Linked DNA regions of Homo sapiens: region 1 is linked to region 2. A link means that fine-mapping ties the variant in region 2 to the expression of a gene that starts in the linked region. Tissue or cell type: tibial nerve. Region 2 holds a variant in brackets; the other region holds the start of a gene. All regions are shown on one strand. Distances are from middle to middle.

The links. PIP is the estimated chance that this variant, and not a neighbour inherited with it, causes the effect.
Region 1: it holds the start of PIGH, and the variant in region 2 is fine-mapped to the expression of PIGH in tibial nerve (GTEx, PIP 0.91).

What each region holds. Positions count from the first base shown.
Region 1 is chr14:67,596,807-67,604,984 of GRCh38, reverse strand. It overlaps PIGH (phosphatidylinositol glycan anchor biosynthesis class H), which reads left to right and starts at 4,717. Exons shown (of 4, transcript NM_004569.5): 1 at 4,717-4,961. The coding sequence starts at 4,782. It also overlaps a transcript of GPHN not described here. RefSeq lists an enhancer at 4,720-5,039.
Region 2 is chr14:67,571,184-67,579,361 of GRCh38, reverse strand. It overlaps PLEKHH1 (pleckstrin homology, MyTH4 and FERM domain containing H1), which reads right to left. Exons shown (of 29, transcript NM_020715.3): 10 at 7,460-7,610; 11 at 7,085-7,227; 12 at 5,976-6,086; 13 at 5,475-5,561; 14 at 4,959-5,120; 15 at 3,890-3,970; 16 at 3,357-3,539; 17 at 2,859-2,967; 18 at 1,948-2,060; 19 at 1,163-1,339; 20 at 731-828; 21 at 51-228. It also overlaps a transcript of GPHN not described here. Among named protein-coding and RNA genes, the nearest start is that of PIGH, 25 kb to the left of the region's middle. RefSeq lists an enhancer at 7,716-7,895. The variant C/T (reference allele first, on the strand shown) is at 5,154.

The DNA.
Region 1 (8,178 bases), 26 kb before region 2:
AGCACAAGGGAAGACAAAATAGAACAACAGAACATAATAGAGAGTGTGGAAATAGACCGAGAAATTTGTGGTCACCTATTTACAACAAAGGCACTATCTCAATTAGGGGGGAAGGGTAGTCTTTTCAACACGTGCTGCTGGGAAACAAAATGACCCTTAACCTCTACAAACAAAAATTAGTTCAAAATGGATCATTGGCTTAAATATGAAAGGTAAAATAATTAAGCTTCTAGGGAAAAAAAAGATAGGCAAAGTTTTTTTTGTTGTTGTTGTTTTGTTTGTTTTTTCTCGCTCTGTTACCCAGGCTGGAATGCAGTGGCTTGATCACAGCTTTTTGTAGCCTCCTACAGTAAGCTGGGCTTACTGGGCTCAAGCAACCCTTCTGCCTCAGCCTCCCTAGTACCTAGTAGCTGTGCCACCATGCCCAGCTTTTTGTTTTTTGTTTTTTGTTTGGTAGAGTCAGAGTCTCGCTATGTTGCCCAGCATGTTCTGGAACTCCTGAGCTCAAACGATCTTCCTGGCTCAGCCTCTCAAAGTGCTGGGATTATAGGCATGAGCCACCATGCCCGCAAGACAGGCAAAGCTTCCTAAACAGGACAAAATATTATACAACACTAGCCATAAAAGACAAGATTGATAAATTGGACTTTATGAAAATTAAAACCTCTGTTCATCAAAAGACACCATTAGAGTATGGAAAAGTAAGTCACAGACTGTTTTACTGCTTGGAGGATATACCTCAATTAAAACATTTCCTTAAATGGACAGATGAGGAGACTTCCATTTCTGAAAGATGGAACAGACATTCTTTGCCTATCCATCCCAGTAAGAAAGCTAAAACCTTTGCGCCTGTAATCCCAGCTACTTGGGAGGCTGAGGCACAAGAATCGCTTGAACCCAGGAGGTGGAAGTTGCAGTGAGTAGAGATTGTGCTACTGCACTCTTGCCTAGGCGACAGAGCAAGACTGTCTCAAAAAAAAAACAAAAACAAAAAACAAGGGCAGGGCTGGGAGCGGTGGCTCACGCCTATAATCCCAGCACTTTGAGAGGTTGAGGCGGGCAGATCACCTGAGGTCAGGAGTTTGAGACCAGCCTGACCAACATGGAGAAACCCCATCTCTACTAAAAATACAAAATTAGCTGGGCATGGTGGCGCATGCCTGTAATCCCAGCTACTTGGGAGGCTGACCTCAGCAGGAGAATCGCTTGAACCTGGAATGCGGAGGTTGTGGTGAGCCAAGATTGTGCCATTGCACTCCAGCCTGGGTAACAAGAGCAAAACTCCGTCTCAAACAAACAAACAACCCACAAAGCAGTAATAAGGATTTTAGTGACTGGGTGCAGTGGCTCATGCCTGCAATCCCAGCACTTTAGGAGGCCAAGGCAACAGGAACGCTTCAACCCAGGCATTCAAGGTCACAATGAGTTATGATTATACCACTGCACTGCAGCCTGAGTAACAGAGCAACACCCTCTCTCTAAAAAGAAAAAGGATTTTAGAGATCTTAGACTACCACAGTATTTATTCCTAATAATTGAGTATTTTTAAAAAATTAAGTAAAGTACATTTGGCCTTTTTCTTTCTATAACTCTATAATTGTGAAACTTCTTAGCCTGCTGGGCATGGTGACTCATGCCTGTAATCCCAACTCTTTGGGAGGCTGAGGCCGAAGGATCACCCGAGCCTAGGAGTTTGAAAATAGCCTGGGAAACATAGTGAGATGCCATTTCTACAAAATATGCAAAAATTAGCCTGATGTGGTAGAGTGTGCCTGTAGCCCTAGATACTTGAGGGGCTGAGGTGGGAGGATCTCTTTAGCCCAGGAAGTTGAGACTGCAGTGAGCCATGACCGTACCACTGCTGCACTCCGCTTTCGGTGACAGAGCAAGACCTTGCCTCAAACAAAACAAAACAAACCAGAAAGAAAGAAAAAGAAAAGAAACTTCTTAGCCTGTACAGGTACCTTTTGTATTGTAGACCCTCTGGAAGTTTGGCGAAATGAATGGACCCTTTATTATAATAATGCTTTAAAATGTATAAATACATAGGACTTCTAAGAAAATCAACTAAATTAAAATATGGTTATCAAAATATTTTAAAAATGTGTTACAGTGATATGTTTCTCTTTATTGACACATTAAATAATAATAGCTAGTGATGGGTTTAATAATTACTGCAATTTTGAAGTAGCAATGACTAGAAATGACATTTTGAAACAATTATTGTGAAAAGAAAATATCTGTGATTTCTGTCAGTGACAAAAATCACAAGCTCTACTAATACTAGTTTGTTGCCCATATTCATAATCAAAAGAAATGTTAAATTTTAATTAGAAGTTAATGAAACTAAAAATGAAACACTGATTCTATCCGTGGAGCCCAAGTTAAGAACTCCAGGACTACAGGCTTCCCCAAAACATTAACAGTACTTATCTCTGAGTGATGGAAATATGGGTGGTTTACATTTTTTTCTTTTCTGTATTTTTCAAATTTTCCACAATAAGCAAATATCACTTTTATAATTATAAAACACATGATATATGCAATAGTAAAAGGGGTGATATGGTTCGGCTCTCTGTGCCTACCCAAATCTCATGTCAAATTGTAATCTCCACTTGTTAGGGGAGGGACCCAGTGGGAGGTGATTGGATCATGGGGACGGATTTCCCCCATGCTGGTCTCGTGATGCTGAGTGAGTTCTCTCACGAGATCTGACGGTTTAAAAATGTGGCACTTCCCCACTCCCCTCCTGCTGCCATGTAAGACATGCCTGGCTTCCCCTTTGCCTTCCACCATTATTGTAAGTTTCCTGAGGCCTTGCCAGCCATGTGGAACTGTGAGTCAATAAACCTCTTTTCTTTATAAATTACCGAGTCTCAGGTAGTTCTTTATAGCAGTGTGAAAACGGACTAATAAAAGGAGTGTATTAATTGTCAGATTCGGGGCACAGAAATAAAACTAGAAAAATAAAGAAGTGCTTGAAGAAATCCTTTAGGAAAAAAGAAAGGGAAATAAAATTCTGAATGAAGATGAAGAAACGGAACCTTTCATCAGAGAGACTTAAAGCTGGTGAGACCTTTATGCCATGGATCTTTTTTTTTTTTTAAATGAATATAGACACAGTCTTGCTCTGTTGCCCAGGCTGGTCTTGAACTCCTAAGTTCAAGTGATTCTCCTGCCTCAGCCACCCGAACAGCTGGGATTACAGGCATGCTCCACCATGCCCAGGTAATTTTTTTGTATTTTTAGTAGAGATGGTTTCACCATGTTGGCCAGGCTGATCTTGAACTCCTGACCCAAGTGATCTGCCCTCCTCAGCCTCCCAAAGTGCTGAGATTACAGGCATGTGCCACCATGCCCAGCCCATCACAAGTGTTTTGACAGTCCACATAGCCACTCCTGGGCCACATCAGAAGTAAAAATGGAACTCATAGGCCACTATTACTCATGAGTTTAGTAATTTTATTATCCATTTCTTCTGCATCTCCCGCTCCTGCTTAATTCCCAGCCAGGTCTTGCCTGTCTACCACGGTCCAAGCAGTCATTTGGGAGACAGAACTCCCAGGCAGTGAAATCCAAACTCCTTACCAGACCCTACAAGACCCTCTTGGATCTGACCCCTACCTGCCTCCCCAGCTTCCAACTGTTTTCCCCACACACCAACCTTTCTCGCCTTTTGATTATTTCATTAAGCCAAGCTTGTTCCAACTTCGAGGGGTTTGCCTTTCCTGGTCTTTCTTTCTGGCAAATTCCTCCTCCAGAGCTCCTTCAGTCCTGTCTGGCTCGTCACCCTTGTAACTCAGTGTCCTCTTACTTAGAGACTTCGCCTGACTGCCCTATGTAAAGTCCTCAGTCCATCCCTGCCAGTCAGCATAGTATTGCCAACGATACTCTCTTATTTCCATATTGTCTCCTACTAGAAAGGAAGCTGCCCGAGGGCAGAGACTGTCATCAACATCGTTCACTGCTGCATCCTCAAGCACCTCAAACTACCCGGCACAGGAAAAGAGTAAGTGAAATGAATACCCGTGGGCTCTCCTTGCGGCTCACTCTGGCTTAGAGAAATCGGCTTGCCAAGCAAAAGCATGATTAAAACTGTGGGTTTGGGCTGGGTGCGGTGGCTCACGCCTGTAATCCCAGCACTTCGGGAGGCCGAGGCGGGCGAATCACCTGAGGTCAGGAGTTTGAGACCAACCTGGCCAACATGGTGAAACCTGTCTCTACTAAAAATACAAAAATCAGCAGGGCGTGGTGGCGCGCGCCTGTAATCCCAGCTACTCAGGAGGCTTAGGCAGGAGAATCGCTTGAACCCGGGGGAAGCAGGTTGCAGTGAGCCGACGTCGCGCCATTCCGTCTCAAAACAAAAACAAACTGTGGGTTTGTTTTGAGACAGGGTCTTGCTCTCTCGCACAGGCTAGAGAGCAGGGGCATGATCTCCGCTCACTGCAACCTCGACCTCCCAGGCTCAAGCGATCCTCCCGCCTTGGCCTCCCAGTGCTGGACTACAGGCCTGAGTCAACGCGCCCGGTCTAAAAACGATTTTAATCTTTCCACTTAACTATTGCCCCGACGAGGTTTTTTCGAAGACAGTCAAGGCCGGCCCGGAAGAACGCACAACCATCAGCCCCCAGCAGAGCTCTCGGCGCGCAACTGAGGCTGCGCAGGCTTAGGGCGGGGCGTGGTGACGCGGCTGCCGGAAGCGGGTCTGGAGCGGGCGAGACGGCCAGGGCCGGCGAGCGCAGTGCAGCGCCGCGCGGTGCGGGCGGCCGAGTGGGGGCGTCATGGAGGATGAGCGGAGCTTTTCGGATATCTGCGGCGGCCGCCTGGCGCTGCAGCGCCGCTACTACTCCCCGTCCTGCCGGGAATTCTGCCTCAGCTGCCCTCGGCTCTCGCTGCGTTCGCTCACCGCTGTCACCTGCACGGTGTGGCTGGCGGCCTACGGACTCTTCACCCTCTGCGAGGTAATGGCAAGTCGGCCCCTCCCCGCGCTCGAAGGAGGGGGTTCGGCTTTGGGAGGGTCTTTGGGGTCTTTGGTCGAGCCCGGACCTCTGGTCGGCCCCTCCTACAGTGATAGGACAGGAGGGCGGGAACTCACGGGTTCTGGGGACGATATTCCGCTGCTGGACAGCTCTTTAAATGACGTTTAGTGAAATGTGTGCTCCTGGATAGTACATTCCCCTTCCGTGGCTGTGCTCTGCTCCGTGGGTTCACTCAGCATACATCTAGTTCTTGCGCGACGGCCTAAAACTTTAACTGCCATGTGTTCTATGTAGTATAGGCGCGCAGTAATTTAATTCCAAGAGTTCAAGGAACTACTAAGTGGGTCTTCCTCGTCCATCCCTTCTGCTCCTCAAAGTAGTACTGCTAACAATACTTTACGTAGACTTCCACAAACTGTCTTTGCCTCCACAAGTGTGTGTGTTTATCTGTGTGTATAGATAGAGTGTTATAGTTCTTCCTAATCTCTGTTTTTCAAGGGAGTTTTTTAACCCTCCCTCCTCCCAAACCCTTCCCCAATTTCAAGTACTTTCTAAAGGTTTATGAAATTTTGGACGTGTGTGATAGCTGTGCTCAATTTCCAGATTCATTCCTGTTTTCTCTGAGCCTCAATTTTCTACATCTCTAAAATAGAATTCATGCCTGCCATACCAGCTTCATGATATTGTGAGGGTTAAATGCAGTAACTTTGTGACAGCTCTCAAATAAAAAGAATTATCCTAATTTTCAGGATAAGTTCTAGTTTCATATGTAGTGCCTGAATTGAATGTATTATCCCAGAAGTGATCTAATCAGAGCTAAGTACAGCAGGGCTATTTATTTTTGTAACTTGGATATTGTTTCCATTACTGCATCCATTCGCTTTTTTGCTGTCAAAGCGTGTTTCAGAGCATGGTAATTTAGCATAGAAATATGCAGAATTAAGACTGCCCTAATTGCAGGAAACTATCTAACTATCTAAACCGTATGTTTGTTCAGGCAAAGCACTGTACCTCACGCCTGTAATCCCAGCACTTTGGGAAGCTGAGGCGGGCGGATCACTTGAGGTCTGGAGTTGGAGACCAGCCTGGCCAACATGGTGAAACCACGTCTCTACGAAAAATTCAAACATTAGCTGGGTGTGGTGGTGCACGCTTGTAGTCTCAGCCACTCGGAAGGCTCAGGCGGGAGAATCGCTTGAACCTGGGAGGTGGAGGTAGCAGTGAGCCGAGATCACGCCACTGCACTCCAGCCTGGGCAACAGAGGGAGACTCTGTCTCAAAAAAAAAAAAAAGTTTGTTCATAAGTCAGTTAAAATGATGATTAAGTTGACTTGATAGCCCCCCTAAAATTTAATTTATTGTATAGTTGAATTTTAGTACTAGCCTGAGTTCTTATAGCCTATGTATGTGGTCATGTGAGGAGGAGGAAATAGATATTTATTAAATGCCCACTGACTGCCAGATGCTTTACTGAATTCCTTACTTTAGCCCTAGAACGAAGGAAACCAAGGCTCACAAAGAGCAATGACTTATCCAAAGTCTCAAAGCAGTAAATGGCAGATCTGGGCTTCAAACCAAGGGCTTTCTGACTCTGAGACCCTTTCTTTTCCTTTATACCATTGTATAGCTGATCTTAGGCAAAATTTAAAAACAAAAGCCTGCTTTTATGCCAGGTCCCTTCTGTACTTGTCTCTCTCATGCCGGTGTACTCTGCTTACCCCCATCAAGTACCCGAGGAATCAGTGACCGCATCTTCCTTTAAACTCTACTGCAACACTTTCTAAGGGCTCTGTGTGCCAAAATTTCTTACCTTTCCTATTCAAAACTGTTTATGAGAGTAATGAATATCTGGAATGAGAAGAAATCTGATTGAAGGAATTCATTCAAACATACAGCTTAACCCCAACCCAAATTAATATTGAATTGTTTGAATTCTACACAGAAAAATGAAGTTGAAAAAAATGCAGATAGTAGGGCACGGATTGCTTTTATTGGAAAGCTGACATGGATCAAATCCTTAAGGATTTATTGTTCTTCATCCCTTCATTCCTTCTTGTTTTTGAGTTCACAGTTCTATTAAAGTTCCAGGTTGTTCCCTTGTTTATTCCAACCTGGAATGTTCTTCCCCCTTCCCTTTCAACTAATTATATTGGTCACTAACCACCACTTCCCCTACACCAATTAAATCCTGTTTCCTTGGATGTGATGGGATATTCCTGTGTGCTTTAATGTCTTTTTTTTTTTTAAACTTTTCTTTTGGCACTTATAGTCAGTATCAGAGTATCCTCCAGAATATTTTCTATGTATTAATCTTGCCTTTAATACATCTATAAGGGTCAGGGCTGAATTGTATTCCTCTCCATTCTTCTTAATGCTTATTCAATGCAATTAATTAACTCAAAATTAGATCTTTCTGGATCATCAGAGACCCAGTACTGAATCCTCCATTCATCAATCAACAAATAATTATCTAGCACAGAGATAAGCAAACTTTTTTTTTTTTTGAGACAGGTTTCTTTGTTTTTTTTGAGACAGGTTCTCACTCTGTTGCCCAGGCTGGAGTGTAGTGGTGTGAATACCCCTCACTACAGCCTCAGTCTCCTGGACTCAAGCGATCCTCTTATCTCAGCCACCTGAGTAGCTGGGACTACAGGCATGTGCCACCACACCTGGCTAATTTTTGTATTTTTTGTAGAGACAGGGTCTCACTAGGTTGCCCAGGCTGGTCTTGAACTCCTGGCCTCAAGCGATCCCCCCATGTTGGCCTCCCAAAGTGTTGGGATTATAGGCATGAGCCACCATGCCTGGCCCAAACATTTTCATTAAAAGACTAGATAGTAAATATAGCAGGTTCTGTGGGGTCTGTCTCATAATATTCTTTTCTTTCTTTCTACAACCCTGTAAAAACTTAAAAATCATTCTTTGCTTGAGATGGGCCAGACAAAACCAGACCACAGGCCCAAATAGTTTACAGATCCCTGATCTAACACTATGGGTTAACTATGAAAAAGTAGAAAGAGACCATCAAAGAAAACCAGAGCTAGTGAGTAGTTGAAGTGGTACAAAAACCAGATGTTATTCAGGAACTATTACAGTAGGGGAAAAGAGACTTCAGTATAGACTTCCAAATTTCCTCAGTTCCGAATATAGCATGGACAAGTGGAGATTTATAGCCAAGGAGCAAGGTGGGAGTCAGTGG
Region 2 (8,178 bases):
GGATGGTGACGTGAGAAGACTCGGGGCAAAGAGCACGCCCAGCTCCTCACATGGTAAGTCCCGTTGGTAAAGTGCACGGGGATGCTGAAGGGCAAGGAGTGGTGGAAGGGGTTACGCAGCAGGATGGACACCACTTCCATGCGCGATGGCCTGGCTTCCCGCTCCCCGGTCCGCAGGGTCCGCTCCACTGCCCGCTGGCAGTAGGTGGCATACTGGCCAGTTTCACTTCTAAAAAGACGGAAGAGGGGAGTATTATGGGCTCTGCTCATCTCTGCCACTTTGGCACCCCGGATCCCTATCTAGACTCAGCCAGGACCAAAACTGTAGCTGGGGCAGGTTGTGAGAAAAGCCCTGAAGACTCTGGTCTGGGACATTAATTTGTCATTCAGGACCTTTATATAGCAGGTTGCTGGCATGGATATTTTCTTCTAGAACCCAGAGGACATAACAACAGAATAGCACTTGGGGACAGTTTGGGAGCAGTGTGGCTTCATGTGAGAGTTGCCACAGTACATCCGTGGATACATGGATTGGCGTGCAGAGAAGCTTAAGCATGCCCAGATCCACACGTGCCCATTTGTGCACACGGCAATGGGTGAAGTCTCCACGACCACTGAGCGGTTTCAGAGGACAGGAGTGATCTGGTCTGCCCTAGACTCCTCTCATCCCTCTTATTCATGCGGCAGTTGGCAGTGCTCAAGTGGCAGAGGAAACGGCCAGGTTCACTCACCTGGGATCTGCATGGCGTTGGAGCTGCTGCTTGACATACCAGAGGAAGTGATGCTGAGGCAGGAAAAGTGGAGCACACAGAGCGAGGAGCTGCCAGCACTGCCAGGGACACAGACAGCGTGGGGTGAGTGCTGGGCCTACAGCACCACCTGTCCTCATAGCCCTGAGCTACAGAGCCTTCAGCACTCTTTCCCCAAACCAGAGCCCCCAACTTGCTCTGGGTGCTGGGATGGCCAACTTGGTCAGGCTGTGTCCAGAATGCAATCACCCATCTGTGCATAGACAGCTCAGCCGTACTGATGCAGCTTGGAGCACAGAGGCTGCCCGCTGGCTGGGCTCACCGTATACCTGCCCAGTCACCTCCTCCCACCTTTCCCACCTGGCAGCCCTTGCCAATGGCTTCTGTCAGCTGCTCCACCCCTGGCATGCCTACCTGCATGAGGGAGTACTTCTGAGGTGGGCGGCAGCTGGTCTGCTTCATGAGTTGGCAGTAGATCTCACTCTGCAGCTCGGGGTGAACCAGGCAGACCTGCAGTGCGGTCTGGGCCAGGGACACATGGTAGTCCACCGAGGCAGCTTCCACCGGCACGTTGATGAAGAGCTGGCAGGACTGGGAGGGAACAGCAGTGAGCACAGGCAGACCAGCATCCCCTGGGTTCAGAGAACTCAACGGCTTGGCCATTTTCCAAGGGCTCCAGGGAGGTTAGAGTTTACTGACAGCCCTTTCTAAGAGGGAGCACTGCTACTGTTGGAGGGCATCTCTGCTTACTAAAAGGGGCTATGGGCTACTTTGGGATAGAAGTTTCCTTTTTAAAATGTTCTCATTACATTACATAAACAAGACAAATTCCTTAAAAAAAACAAAAACAAAAACAGAAAACTCAAACATTCACAAAGGACATGCTAAAATAGGTCCGAATCTCTCAGTCCAGAAGCAACATAAACCTCGCCTTTTCTGCTTAACTACAGGAGGAGGGGAGCTCCTCCAGGGAGAGTTTTCATTGGCATTTCCCAAGGACTTGTGCATGACGTTCCAGAGCTGCTTCCCTCCCAGTGACAGGATTACATTCCTGCCATCCAGGAAGTGATAGGGACCCTGGGAAGTTTCCTTCCCTTCCTCTCCAGATCCCTCTGTGGGTTGTCCCCAACTGCACAGGCCTTCTCCACCCAAGTATTGCAAGTATCCCAGCGGTGGGCCTGGCCGCCACCCCAATTTACCTTGAAGAGCTTGAGGGCCTCCGTCTGCAAGGCCTCAGAGGGCAGGGTGGTGAGGGAGGCGTATAGGCCGTCTTTGCTGTAGCACAGCATGGGGTGCCTCCAGAGCGGCGAATCTGCCCAAAGCACGGAACCAGAGAGCAAGGGCAGTTACTACTGAGAGGGGACTCATCTCCCACTCACCGCCATCTTTAATTTATGGGGAAGATAGTGGTTTATCTTCCGTCAACACTTGGGTTGTGCTGGGTTTATCATCCATAGAGTGTGGGGTGTACAGGTGGGCACTGCAATGAGCACCCTCATATAAGCATGGCCTTTCTCGTGGAATGGCAGTAGGGGTGAGTGTGCAAGGTTGTGGGTGTCTGAGTGCAGGTGGATGTGTGCAGGGGAGGCCTCTTTCTTACTGTGTCAAGTCTGGATGGAGGGGCATATGAATTGGTCAGAAACAAACAAGCCTCAGAGCAGTAGTAAAGGGGTGTGTGTGGTATATGCCATTAATTAGTTCCTCAGGGCCCTGATAATCAGTAGCAAAAGAAAGACTCCAAACAGGTTAGTCCGATCCCAATTTAGGCTTCACTTGTTGATTTACAAACTCTAACTATAGATTAACCAGCTACCTTCTTTCCTCAGCCCTCTGCCCAGCCAGCAACGGGGCAGCTTGATCCAAGTAAAACATTTACCCAGGTCCCTGGAAAGCCTGCTTCCCAGATAAACTCCCCCAGATGCAGAGTGGTCACCTTAGTATCTCAGCCGGAGACAGAGGGGCCCTGGAGCTTGGATGGGAACTTCCCCTCTGTGGCTTAGATGTTTTAAAAACAGCTTCAGGGTACAACACTGCTTTCTTTGGGATCTTGACCAATAGTCACCAAGCCACTACCCTCCAACCCAAGCAGTGGTGGCCACCCTTGCCTTACCTGGATCTCCTTCACCATCCATCAGTTTTCCAATGAGCTGCTCATAGGCAGTGCCCACCTTGGCACTGCTGCCACCTGCAGCCACTGTGAGGTGGTAGAGCCACGTATCCTGGAAGAGGGCGGAAAGCCATCGGATGGGGACGGGGTGGGAAGAGTGGAGGCAAGAGCTCCAAGGAGGACTCCTTGAAGGGACCAAGCCCATGTGGGGTTCAGCTAGTTTGGTTGGCATGAGTCAGGGCTACCTGGAAAGACTGAGGATCAGGTGAACATGAACCCAACTTTCCAAATTTGCGATTCTATTACATGACCTCAGTGAAGCAATGTTGGTCACTGGGAATAAATTCAGTATAAAGGAATATTCCCATTCAGAGAATATTAGTTGCCAAAGTGTCCAAAAGGAAATAAATTTGAATTTTGGGAAGCTCAGGAGAAAGAGAGAAGGGAAGATCAGAATCACAGGTCCAAGCTTGGCCCTGGAGGCCCAGCCCTCTTCCTTACCTTTTCATGCTTGGTGCCAATGAGGAGGTAGGTGGGGCTGTGCTCTGTGGGGTGGATCACCAGGGTGCAGTGGGAGGAAAGCAACCGTCTGGTTCCTCCAGCCTCATAGTCCTCGTCTGAGTCACAGGATCGATCTACTTCCTCTATGTGCGCATCCCGCACAGGCAGGCAGCCCAGGGGTCGCTGTGGACAGCAGTCTTCCATGAATGGGAGAGCCAGTGGGGGATGAGGGAGTCTCCTCTCTCTGAATACATAGGCTCCGTGAAGCTGGGAATCGTGGATATGGACCGATGACAGGATGGGGAGGTGGAGACTATAGCATCCCAGCCAGGCTGGCAGCAGAATGAGGCTTGCTTGGAGAAGCACCAGAGACCCAGACAGGCAGAATCTCACACTCTGGAGGGATCCAGCCAACTGATTTTGTATTTATTGTGGGGTTACGTGGGGTAGGGACTTTCATCAGGACATAGAGTGGCAGTCATGTGCTTCGGGGGAAGCAGGAGAGTGGGTATTGTGAGGAGGCTGAGAAGTACCTTGTCCTCATGGCTCCGATAGTAGTAGAAGATTTTCCCAACAAGAGCGCACCAGACCACCTTGGAGTGGCCATGCTTTACCTGTAAGACAGAAATGAACTGGCATTATGAGAACTAGGTAACTCTAGAAGTAAATCCAGGACTGGCAAATAGAAGCCACAGGGAGACAGATTTGACCTATGGTAGAGATGGAGATGCCATTTGGGCTCCCTACTAATGGAACCACCCCTTTCACAGTGAGGGTGCCATGACACCCTGTGGCACCCCAGCCATCATGGGCTATTCAGTGACCTATGACCTGCCATGAAACGATTAGCCAGGCCAATCAGATGTCCCCTCCAGGCATATGAAAATAGGAAGAACTTGCTAGGTGGCAGAAGCCACAGTTGTCAGGGTGCCGGGAGGGAGGGAGGGAAAACAGCAGGCTGAAGCCCTTGGGCAACCATGCATCATGAAGGAACAGAAGCTGCACACGGGCGAAGGAGAATGACATAAACAGATTGAACGAGAAGCAGAGCCACACAGCGAGCCTGCCAGCCCTGAGCTTGCTGAGTGCAAGTCGCTTTGGTTCCTGCTGGTGTTCTGGTCTAGCTAATGTACTTCCTTGTTAACTTCCATTTTCTTGGGTTTAACAACTGCTTCTCTGCTCTGTTCAACCAGAAGAGCCCTAACAAAAATGTCTTTAGGGCAGGCCTGGGATACTTTAAGTCTTTGAGGAGCCATACCTACCTCGCCCAGGCCTCTTCCTCCCACTATTAACACTGAGGCAGGTATAAGGTGGGGGTGGGTGACAGCCCCTAATGACCTCAAAATGGATACAAGATAGTCCCTTCCCTTCTCTTTCTTGAGAATAGTTGTTCCAACAACCCTGATTTGTTTCCGGGGAATCACTCGCCATCACCTTGTGTGGCCAGACCACGTTTGAGGGCTGGCCAGCGAGTCACTGTGAGGAGGCTCCCAGAGAAAGGAGCCCCGTATAAGGGGGAACCCACCACCCTCGGCACCCCAATCCTGGCTCCCCTGATTCGCAGGAGGCACATGTTCCTGCCCTATCAGCCCCACCCTCTACCTTGGTCAGCCAGCCCTTCACGGTGGGCTTGGTGCCACCCCGAAGCAGAGCTGGAGGCCCGGTGGCCTGCACCTTCAGCAGGCTCTGGAGTACTCGGATCCACTCCTCCAGCAGGCTGGGTGAATCGGCCGTCAGGTAGTAGGTTTTCTTCTCAGAGATGAGCTGTGGAGGGCGAGATATGGGGGTGGGGCAGCA[C/T]GCTGGGAGAATGGAGTAACCAGGACCTGGCTCCGAGGTGGCACCTGTCCCTGAACCCAAGGGGCTGGCCTTCTGCCTGCCCTAGTGCTCCCTCCTTTCTTTTCCTCCTCATCTTTTCCTCCCTGTCTCTCCTTCCTTCACTCCATCTCTCATATTCTGTCTCATCTTCCTTTCTTGTACTCACAAGTTAGGATCACGTCCAAATGTTGATCTGAAGTCTTTCATTCATGCTCATTTGGCCCCATCTTTGTCTCACTCACGGCCATATCCAAACCCAGCACCTCTTCTGTTTAAAATACTAGCAGCCAGGAGCGTGCTCACCTGAAACGTCTGTGAACCCTCCCCTCGAACAATTTGGCAGCGGGAGTTCAGATCCACTTGGCCTTGAGGTTTCCGGATGACATCACTCTGTAAAGAAAGTATTGGAGAGGAGAGCCACTGAATGTGGAGCCTTTCCGGAGCACCTCATTTACCCTCAGATCTTCCTCCACGTCATAAGCAAAGGGAAACATGATTCCCAGCATTCTGGCTGTGTTATGATGGGTGACTTATTCTAGATTCTGGTTATAGCTAAATGGAACCTTAATCAGGAACATGGGTCCTTCTGAGAACCTCCCTATTTCATTCTGAAACTCACGGCCAGGCTTAGGTCCCCAAGTGTGGCTCAAAGCCTCAGGGGCCCAGTGAGGTTGCCTCTCCCCACCTGCCAGACCTTTGCCCTCTGGCCTTGGGCCACATTCCCCCTCCTCCGTCCCATCTGACATAGTCCAGGGTGTGATGTGGAGACCTTTTGACTGCAGTGCTGGGCGGGGAGACTCTCACCGGGGACTTGTAGTACATAATCTGTCCCTGTCTCAGGACAAACCAGCGCCTCTTCCACGTCTTCACCTGGCTCCCCATTTTCAGCAGGTAGCCCGACTTCTCCAGTGACTCCTGAGGGGTGGAAGGGTGTAGATGAAGAAAGGGGAAATCACTCAGGGCTCCTAGACATCACACAGGTCCAAGTGGTCCAGCTGCCTCACTACTCGGTCATCAATTAAATACAAAATTATTGAGTACCTACTCAGTGTATTTTCAGAGTACCATGCCCTGCTATGGTTCAGAGAGGACTAAATAAAACATGGGTGGTCCTGCCAAGGAAGGGCTCCCATGCTAGCTGGGGAAGACCTCACTATGAGAAGGTAGCAGAGCAGGGGCTGCTAGAGGGAGAGCCTGGCCAGGGAGAGCGTCAGGAGAGAGCCGGCCCTGAGCTGGCCTTGTTAGGATAGTTCAGCCTCTCCCTCAAAGACTGAGAGGAGGAAGAAGACCATTCCAGGCAGCACAGAGCAGGGAGAGGGCAAGGCAGGTCTGGGCAACCTGGACACATCAGCCAGGCAGGACTGGAGGGTCATGGAGCCAGGGAGATGATGGGGCAGCAGAGAGGTGTGGGGCGAGGGATGCGGAATTACATCGGGAGTGGATGCTAGCCCTGGCATGTAGTGGCACAGCTTGGAGCCTCAGGCTTCTCATCCATAAGATGGGCTAATGACCCCAAGAGGATTGTGAGGACAAATGAGACAATGCCTGGAAACTGAGCACAGTGCCTGGTGCCAAGAGTTCAATAAATGTTAGCTTGCGTTAGTATTCCAGGTGATAAAACAAAGTCATATATGGAAAACTCTTCATGGGGCCTGGTGGGCCACAGTAGGCTCTCAGTAACTGGCCATTGCTGGTATTCCAGGAGCTCTCTGGGCTCCCTCCTTCCTTCCTTGTGGGGTCTGTGTGTCTGACTCCATAACTGTACACCCCCCCAGCCCACGCCCCCTGCCCCCATCCCCCAGCTCTAGGGACCCCTCACTTCAGGCAGCTACTGCCTATGTCTTGTGCTGAGGGCCCCAGCAGCCTCTGCTGCATTCTGCTTCCACCCTGCCCCCGCCCGTTTCCCGGCTCACCCCGCCCAGGCCCAGCCCGTCGGTGGAGTAGGATGAGGTGCGCTGCAGTTTGTGCTCAGGCTCTGAGTAGTCACTGTCCAGTGAGCAGGCGTCCGGGGGGATGGCGTAGTCACCCTCGGAGCTCAGTGAGGACATGGAGACGCCTTGCCGAGGGAGGAGGAGTCAAGGCCCGGGTCCCACACCTCCCCGACTCACGCAGCCCAGGAGCTGCTGAGACTTGACCACCCACCCGGGACCCGGTCTCTGGGGCTGGGGGTGGAGCTGCTGGGGGGTCACGAGCTCAGATCAAGTGGGGACGCCCATGTTCAAGTGCCCATGGGAAGAGGTGAGGGGCTCCTTGCTGCTGCACCCTGCCCCTGCTCCCCTTCTCTGTACCTCTCTTGATGGCCCGGGGGCTGCCTAGTCCGCTGGTCTTCCTGGACTCAGAGGAGGGGACCGAGATTCGGAAACTCGCCTGAGAGCTGCAGTCATCGTCAGACCCAGAGGACTCGTCCATAAAGGGCATGTTGCTGATCTGTGTAGCTCTCTGCAAGACAGGCCCCTCCCTCACTGCAGCTCAGGCTGCAAAACAGTCCTCTCCCAACCCTGCAGCTTGCACTCCTGGTCCAAGTGCCCATGGTGTGGCCAACCCCCAGCCGGGACTCTGAACAGACAACTGTCCAGTGTAAGGTCCCTCCTGGCCTCACTCCTGTGTCATGACCTCCATGCTTCTCAGGCCTCCCTTCCCACACACCATCTTCTGTGGTCCCCAAAGCAGCTGCCCATCACGACTGAATGCCTGCCCACTGTGACCCTCGCTCCTTGCCACTAGGGGGCCAGAAAGCTACACCACAGACTAAGTGTGCCATGCGAGCTTTAAAAATGTGTGGGGACGTCGCAACAATCAATGATTGCATCTCCATTGGCAAACATTTAAAGTGACTGACTATCTCAGTGTTGGTGAGAGTATGGGGAGAAGATGGGGGAAAAAACTCTAGTGTGTAAGGCATTTTTAGAAGGTAATTTGGCAGTACCTGTCAAAAATTAAAACATGTATATAATTTGCCCAGAAATCCCACCTCTAGAACTCTGTCCTACAGACACATGTAGATATA